Linked DNA regions of Homo sapiens. The protein of the gene in region 1 purifies or fractionates together with the protein of each later gene. This does not show direct contact. Each region holds a gene or a part of one and is shown on either strand. Other genes may lie near its edges.

Region 1 (3,652 bases):
TACTGACATTATCCTGCCAAGGACAGAATAATAAAATTTTATATGTAATATGAATCATTAAAAGCCAGAGAAAAAAATGCAATATACAGGTATAGCTATACCTTCAATAAAGGAATTTGCCTTTTTTAGCTCTTTAAATACAGAGAAATATATACTATAAACACACTATTTCCTGAACTATTTGAAGGTAAATTACAGATAACATTACATTTTATCCCTAAATCTATTAGCACACATCTCCTAAGAATTAGGAAATTTTTCTACATAACCACAACACCGTCATCATATTAAGACAGTTAACAGTAATCTAATTTTCTAAAATACTTAGTTCATAAGTTCAGATTTTTCTGTCTTCAAAATATATTTTAAAATTTATATATATATGTATTTTTTTCTAAATCCAATCAAGTCTCATACATTGCATTTGGTGGTTACAATTCTTTAGGTTCTTGGTTTTTTTGTTTGTTTGTTTCATAACATTGAGTTTTTAGACAAATGTCAGTTAATTTGTAGAATATCCCACATTCTGCATTTTGCAATTGTTGGTTCAAGCTGGTTAATAGTGTTGTTCAAGTATTCTATATATCTTTACTGATTTTTCTTTCTTGGCTTTTTTATCTATCATTAACCAGTAAAGATGTTTTTAAGATACCATTTTTCCCAGTTTTTCTATAATAGTTACTTGGCTTTTTAGAGATTTAATTTTTCTGTTGAAGTTCTCTGTTTTTGTCCATTTGGGTTGTCTTTTTCTCTATTTTAAAAAAATAAATTTAAAATAGTTATTTTAAAGTTTTTGTCTGCTTATTCTAACATGTCTTATCTGTGGGTCTGTTTCTTTTGGCTATTTTTTCTTTTGGTTATGGGTCATTTTTTCCTGCTTTATGTGTGATAATTCTGTTTTTATACTGGCATTGTGTTTAGAAGAGATTGGCATAAATACCCTTTTTCTCCAGAGAGACATGCTTTTTTTGCTCTGAAAGGCAGCTAGAATGAAAGACTGAACACTTTGATACCATCAGGAGTTGAGCTGTATTGGAGCTGGATGACCTCTTTAGGTGGTTTCAATTCACTTCTGGTCTCAAGTGCTTTGATAGTGAATGAATCCTGTTCTGTGAGTATTACAGGTGCAACTCTCTTGCAGGACATAAGCCTAATGTTTTTCTGCTTTTTAGTTCCACTCGCAGCCACCAGTGCTGTTGCTGCCTTCACATACTCATAAATAGACCTGTGGAGGGAATCAGGAGGAGAATGGGGAGAATTATCTCTACATTTGAGTTTCTTAAAGATATCAATCTGTCACACAGCCAAGCAGTTGTTAAAAGCTCTGCCATTTCCCTTTAATCCAGCAGAGTATTTCTACCCTGGAAGGCTTGATTCTCTGCAGCCCAGGTACCATTTCAGCAAATTCCCCAGTGCCTGTGATCCCTTCTCATTTTGGAAGGACTTGTGCTTGTCTGTAATTTATTTCCTTTAGACCCCTTTGCATTCTCATCTCTCATGATTTCTTTTTAATACGTTGTTTTTTAAATTGTATCATATGAGCTGTTCTGATAATCTGTATCCTAATTCCAAACTAGTTTTGTGTTCTACATGCAGGATTATCTGATTGTTTTCTCATGGTACCAATTATTTATTTCCTCAATCTCATTTATTTCCTGTAAACTGAAAGTTGGGTCTAAAGGATTGATTCAGGTCAGATATTTTTGCAAAAATATCTATTAGATGAAGCTTCATACATCATTTTGTGTCATATTAGTAGGTTTTTGTTGTGAGGTGTACCGCCATTAGAGATACTAAATGTTATCATTTGGTTAAGGTGGTATCTACTCAATCTTTCCATTGTAAACTTATGTTATCCCTTTATAATTAAGTAATATGTACAGTGATATTTTGGCTTGTGGATCAATCCTCTTTCCTAACAGTCTTTCAACAAACAGTTTTACTTCCATTTATTAAATAATATTTGGGGTTACAAAACAATTATTTTTAAAATTGTATTATTTCTTGACATTTATTAGCTGGCATTCTTTTGTAAATAAAAGAATTTTCCTTTATAAATGGTGAATGATGATTACATGTTATCCAGAAAATCAGATTAAAAAATATGTAATTCTGTTTAATTACCAATTTTCACGAAAGCAATTGGTATAATAGTCAATTACAGTTAGGACAACGGGGTTGTGGGGTTTATTTTTTTGGACTGTCACAGTAACATCTTGGATTTTTATTTATTCCATTTTTCATTATTAGTCTTTTTTTGGGGGGTGGGGTGTTCAAATAATTTCATATTAGGCAGCAGGAGCCCAGTCAAAGTTTACTTCTGTGTTTTACGTCACCTGTGAGCACTTTCTTGCTCTGTAGTACAAAGATGAGTCTTTGCTTCCCCTCGTCGAGACCTGGCATCAGACTGTTTCTTCAGGGAGTCCTAGTTTCATTTAGTGGGAAATGGCATTTGAAAAGTAACATGTGGATACTAGATGTGCACAGGGTGTGCTTTATTCTGCATCTTTTTGGTAAAGAGAATTAGAAAAATATATAATATAATATTATATAGTGTTATATATAAATATTCAATCAAATTCCTAATTGATATTTTCCACTCCAGTTTAATATTATAAGATTTTTGCTTAACAACTTTGTTTTATATTTATATTTATTTTTGCTTAACTTATCTGTTTTTTATTTCTCTTCTGTTACACCGAAGGACTTGGTTCTGAATTACATTAATACATTAGCCTTTTCCTACAATTTACATAAAATGATTTAAAAATTGCAATACTGATTTTCTAAAAATAAAATAACTGAAATGTAAGATTTCTTTGCAGTTCTTTTGTCTTTAGAACATATCCCACCAAGGATCAGAATATATGCTTAAAAGTTGCTTGAAACAGTTATTTTCTGTATGGTTGTAATACCAATTTGCTATACAGTTGATTTCACTTAATTTTCAGTTTGGGGCGTTTTTTATTGTTATTTTAATTTTGGAGAATATAAAACATTTACATGGTTCAAAAGTCAAACCTTATAAAAAGATATACTCAAAAAAGACTCCCTTTTATTTTCTTCATTTACACCTGCCTCTGTTACCAACAAAGCTGGTTTCCCAAAAGATGGGGTCTTTCCCTGTTCATTGTCACAAAACCAGTACACAAAACCAGAAGTGAGTATCAAGCAGTGCAGGCTTTATTTGATGGCCATGGAATTGAGAAGCAGGAGCATGGCTCATAATTCAACTTCTCCACTAGTGATAGGCTGGGGGGTTAAAATATAGGGTTTTCTAATGAAGGCATTGGACATTAAAAGCAAGAGGATTAATATTCATGTCTTTTCTAGAAATGGGCAGTGAACTTTCTAGAACTGGAGTGCCACCATCCTTTTTGTCCTTTTATGGCTTCTTGCAGTTGTTACGGTCATTTGCCAACTGTCATGGAACTGGTGGGAGTACCATTTCATTTAGCATGGAAATGAGATTATAATGAAACGTGAGGTCTTTTCATTATGTCAGCTATCTTGGTTCTAACCAGTCTCACCCGGTCTCGTTATTTCAAAGGGAACTTTTTATTACAGGTATCCTGTTTCTTAAAGGTAAGCAGAGTTGGGGCAGGATCAGAATTCAACTGTCATATAGGCATTACACCGGGTAACACCTCCT
Region 2 (3,652 bases), on another chromosome or scaffold:
AGCAATTACAGCTTACCCCATCTCCATCTAGTGTTGTGGTTTACTACTCTATTTAAGTGTGCCTTCAACTTAATTACTTTCTGGTGGTGCTGGTAATGAAACTTAATGTGATCAATAATCAAAATAGAGTAAAAATGACTATCTTGAGATACTACTGAAAATTATTCAAAAATATGTCTTATAGTATATACTAGTAGTAGTTAAGTTGATTTAGGAAAATTGTCAATTGATAATTTTAAAAGGTTAAAATCTATAATTAATGTTTTTCCCATAGATAGAAACAGGTCAAGATTGTTAAGGCCATGACTTAACTCTGGTTCTTTTTCTTTTTCTTTTTTTGGAGACAGCGTTTGTCACTTTGTTACCCAGGCTGGAGTGCAGTGACTCACTGCAATTTTGATCTCCCCGGCTCAAGCAATCCTCCCGCCTCAGTCCCCCAAGTAGCTGGGACTACAAGCGCGGGTCACCACACCCAGCTAATTTTTGTATATTTTGTAGAGAGAGGGGTTTGCCATGTTGCCTGTGCTGGTCTCAAACTCCTGAACTCAAGCAGTCAACTTGCCGTGGCCTCTCAAAGTGCTGGGATTACAGGTGTGATTCATTTTTTTTTTTTTTTTTTTTTTTTTTCATTTTTTTTCATTTTTTGAGATGGAGTCTTGCTGTGTCGTCCAGACTGGGGTGCAGTGGTGCGATCTTGGCTCACTGCAACCTCTGCCTCCAGGGTTCAAGCAATTCTCCTGCCTCAGCCTCCCTAGTAGTTGGGATTACAAGTATGCGCCACCACGCCTGGCTAATTTTTGTATTTTTAGTAGAGATGGGGTTTCACAATGTTGACCAGGCTGGTCTCAAACTCCTGACCTCAGGCAGTCCTCCTGCCTGGCCTCCCAAAGTCCTGGGGTTACAGGCATGAGCCATTGGGCCTGGCCTACCCTGATTCTTAAGAAAGCATTTTCTTTCTTTCATATTATAAAGTAGTTATGTGTAGGTTTATTTAGTTAGGAATTCCAGCTGTTCAGAGATGGCAAAACAAAAAAAAAAAGCAAGATCCAGTACCATGGCTCATGCCTGCAATCCCAACACTGTAAGAGGCTAAGGCAGGCGGATCACTTGAGGCCAGGAGTTCGAGACCAGCCTGGGCAATATGGCAAAACCCTCATCTCTACTAAACAAAAATTAGCCGGGTATGCCTGTAATCCCACCTACTCAGGAGGTGGAGGTTGCAGTGAGTCAGGATCGTGCCACTGCACTCCAGCCTTGGGCAACAGAGCAAGGCTCTCAAAATAAAAAAGCAGCGGCTGCATTTTATGCCTTTCAAATGCTGCAGGAAATAGAAATGGCTTAAGTTCAGTAAGAGAATTGACAATTCAGTGTTTTTGAGAAGTGGCAATGAAAGGGAGGAAAATGTTTATTGATTTTAGCCTGTTTCCCCAAAAGGATAAGAAACTATTTGGAAGTGAAAAAGAAGGGCCTCTTATTTTCTGTTGGTTCAGATTTCAAAGGTGTGAAAACTATTCTTTTTCCCTTACTGTGACATTAAATCACTTCAGGCTTGTACCATTTTGTATGGCCTGTTGTTAAGTTGGACATGACAATTTGTAAAATGTGAGGATCTTTTCCTTTCTTGTAAGTTAGAAGAAATAACCTCTTCAGTTAAACCTTCAGTGAAGGTTCTTTTAGTTTTCTGTTCTGCTTTCTAAAAACATAGACTCTGTTCTTTAGAGCAACTTATGACTCTCATCTCTGCTGCACGAGAATATGAGATAGAGTTCATCTATGCGATCTCACCTGGATTGGATATCACTTTTTCTAACCCCAAGGAAGTATCCACATTGAAACGTAAATTGGACCAGGTAACTCCTTACTTTTTATTCATTTTTCCTGACTATGTACTTGAAACTAGAAGTTTACTCAGTTGCTTTTACGATGTTAAAAGGAAATCAAATTCCTATTTCTTTGTTTTCTTTTTTTGTTTGTTTGTTTTGTTTTTTGAGACAGAGTCTTGCTCTGTCGCCCAGACTGGAGTGCAGTGGCACAATCTCGGCTCACTGCAACCTCCTCCGCCTCCCGGGTTCAAGTGATTCTCCTGCCTCAGCTTCCCGAGTAGCTGGGACTATAGGTGCGTGCCATCATGCCTGGCTAATTTTTGTATTTTTAGTAGAGACAGGGCCTTCACCATGCCAGCCAGGCTGGTCTCGAACTGCTCACCTCATGATCTTCCCAAAGTGCTGGGATTACAGGTGTGAGTCACCATGCCTGGTTTTTTATTTCTTTGTTTCTATAAGAATTTTTTTTACTTTGAATGCTTTTTTTTTCTTTTTTTTTTTTTTTGAGACAGAGTCTTGCCCTGTTGCCTGGAGTGCAGTGGCCCAATCTCGGCTCACTGCAACCTCCACCTCCCAAGTTCAAGCGATTCTCATGCCTCAGCCTCCTGAGTAGCTGTTACAGGCACACCACCATGCCTGGCTAATTTTTATATTTTTAGTAGAGACAGGGTTTTGCCACGTTGGCCAGGCTGGTCTCGAACTCCTGACTTTAGGTGATTCACCCACTTCAGCCTCCCAGAGTGCCGGGATTACAGTCGTGCGCCAGTGCACCCAGCCTTGAATCCTTCTGATAGAGGAATATTTTCCAAATTAAGTAAAAAGAGCTTTACTGGAGGTACTAGTTCTTCTCAAATTTCAGTTTGCATAAGAACTGCCTTAAAAGAATGATTAGAAGTGAAGCTTGGAAGAATGCTGACTGCTGGACTTTATTTCCCAAATGGATAAGGTGGGGACCGGGAATCTAGGTGATTGGTGGTCAAGAACCACATTTTGAGAAATTATATATACCCTAGGCTGCTTGGCTTGAATTTACACCTGAGATTACAGAAACAGGGTTTTACCTATTAGACATTAGTTTCTTCAATTATATGGACGAAGAGATGTCTGGAAATGGCTAGTTTCCCAAGATGAGAAGAAAAACAGACTAGGTGAACCTAATTGAGTGTAAAGTCTGCTTAATGTAAAAGCTGCAGACTTCCTTTGGTCCAATGTAGGGGGCTTCCATTTTCCTTTTTTTTTTTGAAACTGAGTCTTGCTCTGTCGCCCAGGCTGGAGTGCAGTGGCGCGATCTCAGCTCATTGCAACCTCTACCTCCTGGGTTCAAGCAATTCTCTGGCCTCAGCCTCCTGAGTAACGGGGATTACAGGCATGTGCTACCACACCTGGCTAATTTTTTTGTATTTTTAGTAGAGATGGGGTTTCACCATGTTTGCCAGGCTGGTCTCGAACTCCTAACCTCATGGTTTGCCCGCCTCGGCCTCCCAAAGTGCTGGGATTACAAGTGTGAGCCACTGCGCCCGGCCCCATTTTTCTGTTATTTTAGTTTGCTGGTTTTTCTATATACATGTCTTATTTCTTTAGGCAAAGATTTATATGGGTGGCATTAAAATGTCTGGTAAAAAATTTAAGGCAGTTGAAATTTTCATGAATGAAGTTATTTTACTATTTGATAAAATTCTATTCTTTCTGATTCATACCTGGTTAGGTTTATCTGCAAAGGGATCAGTGTGCCTTTTGGGACTAGGACACAGCCTGGCTTTTTCATGTCTTAAGGTTACTTACTCATGTTTCTGTATTTTTCTGACTTTGTTGGGTCTTCTACAATCAGC
Region 3 (3,652 bases), on another chromosome or scaffold:
TTTATTAATTAATTAATTTTATTTACTTTTTTAGACAGAGTCTCACTCTGTCACCCAGGCTGGAGTGCAGTGGCACGATCTCAGCTCACTGTAACCTCCGCCCAAGTGATTCTCCTGCCTCAGCCTCCTGAGTAGCTGGGATTACAGGTGCCCACCACCACACCAGGCTAATTTTTGTATTTTTAGTAGAGATAGGGTTTCACCTTTTGGCCAGGCTGGTCTCGAACTACTGACCTCAGGTGATCTGCCTGCTTCGGCATCCCAAAGTGCTGGGATTACAGGCGTGAGCCACCTAGCCCAGCCTCAACAACTTTTTAGAATGAGGAGCAAAAACAATCAAATGACAACCCACTCTTGTGGGAAAATCTTACCAGGAACCCTTACGGAGTTTTCTGGTTTTTTGTTTTTTGTTTTTTGTTTTTTTTTTTTTGAGACAGTTTCCCTCTTGCTGCCCAGGCTGGAGTGCAATGGCGTGATCTCAGCTCACCGCAACTGCTGCCTCCTGGGTTCAAGCAATTCTCCTGCCTCAGCTTCCTGAGTAGCTGGGATTACAGGCATGCACCACCATGCCCGGCTAATTTTGTATTTTTAGTAGAGACAGGGTTTCTCCATGTTGGTCAGGATGGTCTCGAACTCCCCACCACAGGTGATCCACCTGCTTTGGCCTCCCAAAGTGCTGGGATTATAGGCGTGAGCCACTGCGCCCAGCCCAGAGTTATTTTTGTAGTTATTTACTTAAAAGAATTTTCCCACTGTTAAGAGTGGGTAGATAGCTAGCTAGACATGAATGGGAGGGAAGAGCCCCTGAGAAAAGGGAGGTCTGGAAAATCCCACATCCCAGAGACCATCAAAAAGATGCATGCTGGCCAGGCATGGTGGCTGATGCTTGTAATCCCAGCACTTTGGGAGGCCGAGGTGGGTGGATCCCTTGAGGTCAGGAGTTCAAGACCAACCTGGCCAACATGGTGAAACCCCATCTCTACCAAAAATACAAAAATTAGCCAGGCATGGTGGTGCATGCCTGAAATCTCAGCTATTTGGAAGGTTGAGGCAGGGAGAATCGCTTGAACCTGGGAGGTAGAGGTTGCAGTGAGCCGATACTGTGCCACTGCACTCCAGCCTGGGCAATAAAGCGAGACTCTGTCTCAAAACAAAACAAACAAACAAAACATGCATGCTAGATATGAGCAGAGAGGAGGGAAAGAGGGTAAAGGAGAAATTCCAAAGAGACATTCAGGTGCAGTAAGTATGGACCTAACCGCTGTACAACCTTCCTGGGGTGGAGGTAATGAGCAATGCAGCCATTAGGTGGGATTCACATCCAACACCGGCTGTACATGTGCACCAACTACTAGTAAGAGAGGGTCCCACAAGCTTAGAGTAGAAATTAGGTGGGAGGAAAAGGTGGGGACTTAAGGCAGAAGCGGGAAAACTAGACAAAGGAAAAAGGCAGAAACTTTAAGACAGAGGTGGGAACTTCAAGAAAAACTCCAGCATCATAAAAACCCGATGCAGAACTCTCAGGGCTGCTGGCTCACTCTCTCAGCATCCCACTCTGCCTCATCTTTCAGAACGTACTGTCTCTCTCCATATAAATTCTCTGTTCTCTATTTCCCTTCAGAAAGCTCTCTGCTATCTCTGAATTGTCTCTTGGCCAAAATCTTTCTCCCAAGATGACTAAGGGCTGAGAATATCCCCACTTCCCGGTAACACCACCAGAGCTGTCTTCAAGCTCCACTTTAATGTGAAAGAAACTGGTTTTATGACTCCAACCCCACGTTCACAGAACAATCGAACTGGATTTCATCAAGCACTGGTCAAGCACTGCTACCTCTGTCTTGCCACACACGCCCAATGTCACTGAGGATTTATTCTGCACAGCGCCAATCTCACTCTCCAGTTTCAACACGCAGTCACCGAGGCCACCCAAAAAGATCAGGCGCACAAATGCATCCTCCTCACCCAGCCCTCCGGGGCCCGCCAGCAGGAACTCCTGTCTCCCTATCCTCTTGACGATCGGCGGCCTCTCCTCACTGCAGTAGGGAAACAGGTCCTGGGAGACGCCTGTGCTGTAATTGTGGATGATGTACTGAGTGGTCAGAGCCAGACACAGGAAGTGGCCGTCCACAGCCACAGCGAGGGGCTGCTCGGCAGTCGACACCTCCTTGACGATCTGCACCCGGTCCTCGTACACCAGAAACATCTGGATGGTTCTGCGTTTGACAGAGATGATGCAAACTTCTACACAGAAGGGGTCCCCACTCACAGGGTTCTCGTTCAGTGCAAACGTGGCTGCCCCCTTGATGCGGGCCCCCGAAGGCACTGGCTCGAGGTTCAGCATGTTGACCAGGCTGATGGAGTTGTCACACAGCACCAGCAGCCTGTTGAGTGCTGAGGCCGCACGCAGCTCGTTCACGGGCTTCTTGAAGCCCAAGTGTCTCTGCAGCTGTTTGGTGGCAGTGAACGTGGCTGGCCCAGCAGGCACTGGCCTCTCCTCCAACAGGAAGTGGTAGACGAAGCAGTCGTTGGTGCCCACGTAGAGGTCCCTGCCGCAGCACTCCACGCACTCTATGTTGACGCGCTCCTTGTCGCCCATCAGCAGCTCCCGCTCCACAGCAGAGACAAGCGTAAAGGCTTTGATGCTCATCATGTCTACTGGCTGATCTGCTGGAAGAGAAAGAGGAAAACTAATTTTAGAGGAACAAGGAAGAAGCAGAAACAGAGGCTGCAATAATGATACGTGGATTCCCTAGTTGTCATTTTCATTAAAGAAAGTCATTCCACGCTATCAAAAAATGGAAAGAAACCATTTCCCCACAGACCTCCCCCATCAGACAGCAGAAGACCCAAGAAGAAAACCACAGACACATACACACACACACACCCATATACACATATGTATGTGCTTGTGATCACGTGCCATCCTGCTCAGTCCCCACACAGAGTCACCTGGAGCCTCCTCACATTGCTCCTGGGAGACACGCTTGAAGGCAGAAGACAAATGCATGCATTCACCCACGGGCAACATAACAAAAGGATTTCTGTGAGGCAGGAGGATGGCTTGACCCCAGGAGCTGGAGGCCAGCCTGGGCAATATAATGAGACCCCATTTAAAAAAAAAAACAAAAAGGATTTCTGAAAAAGGCAGAAATGATCCTCACTGATCTTCCCTGAGTTTCTACAGCTACTTGAATATGCACTTTAGTCAATGAACACAACCACAGTCACAGGATCCTGCCAGGAACACCGAGGCAGACGCCAGGCCTTGGATTCCTTTGTGTTCTTCCCAATAAGGCAGGCGCATCAGCCTCAGCTCCGGAGTAAATGTATTCATGTGGAGAGTAAAGGTGTGCCTCGGATCTCGAAAGGCTTTCAGATGGTGAGTGGAGCTATTTAGTGGATGTGTGGACCGACCGGTCCCTGGCTCCCATTGGAAGTGAGACTTTCCCACACACTAGCCCGTCGCCTCCTACTTCATCTTCTGCAGAGAACTGTGGCTTCACACTCCACAAAGTCACAGGGAGAAGATCAGGCAAGGTGGCCTTTCTGACTTCTCAGGCAGCCAGAAGCAAACTCAAAGGCACAGTCCCTGTGAGCGGGAGCAGGGCAGGGGATCAGAGAGCTGGAAAGAGGACTGCAGAGAATGACGGGA

What was found.
Region 2: the proteins of SAMTOR (region 1) and OGA purify together in Homo sapiens (affinity purification with mass spectrometry; 2 studies listed by BioGRID and IntAct, with this or other methods). This does not show direct contact.
Region 3: the proteins of SAMTOR (region 1) and TGFBRAP1 purify together in Homo sapiens (affinity purification with mass spectrometry; 2 studies listed by BioGRID and IntAct, with this or other methods). This does not show direct contact.

Annotation. Positions count from the first base shown.
Region 1 is NC_000007.14:112,908,769-112,912,420, reverse strand, and holds part of SAMTOR (S-adenosylmethionine sensor upstream of mTORC1), read left to right. Parts: intron 1-3,652. UniProt on the Homo sapiens protein: S-adenosyl-L-methionine-binding protein that acts as an inhibitor of mTORC1 signaling via interaction with the GATOR1 and KICSTOR complexes.
Region 2 is NC_000010.11:101,808,382-101,812,033, reverse strand, and holds part of OGA (protein O-GlcNAcase), read left to right. Parts: intron 1-1,719; coding exon 1,720-1,850; intron 1,851-3,652.
Region 3 is NC_000002.12:105,305,652-105,309,303, forward strand, and holds part of TGFBRAP1 (transforming growth factor-beta receptor-associated protein 1), read right to left. Parts: intron 2,668-3,652; 5' UTR 2,651-2,667; coding exon 1,963-2,650; intron 1-1,962. UniProt on the Homo sapiens protein: Plays a role in the TGF-beta/activin signaling pathway. It associates with inactive heteromeric TGF-beta and activin receptor complexes, mainly through the type II receptor, and is released upon activation of signaling.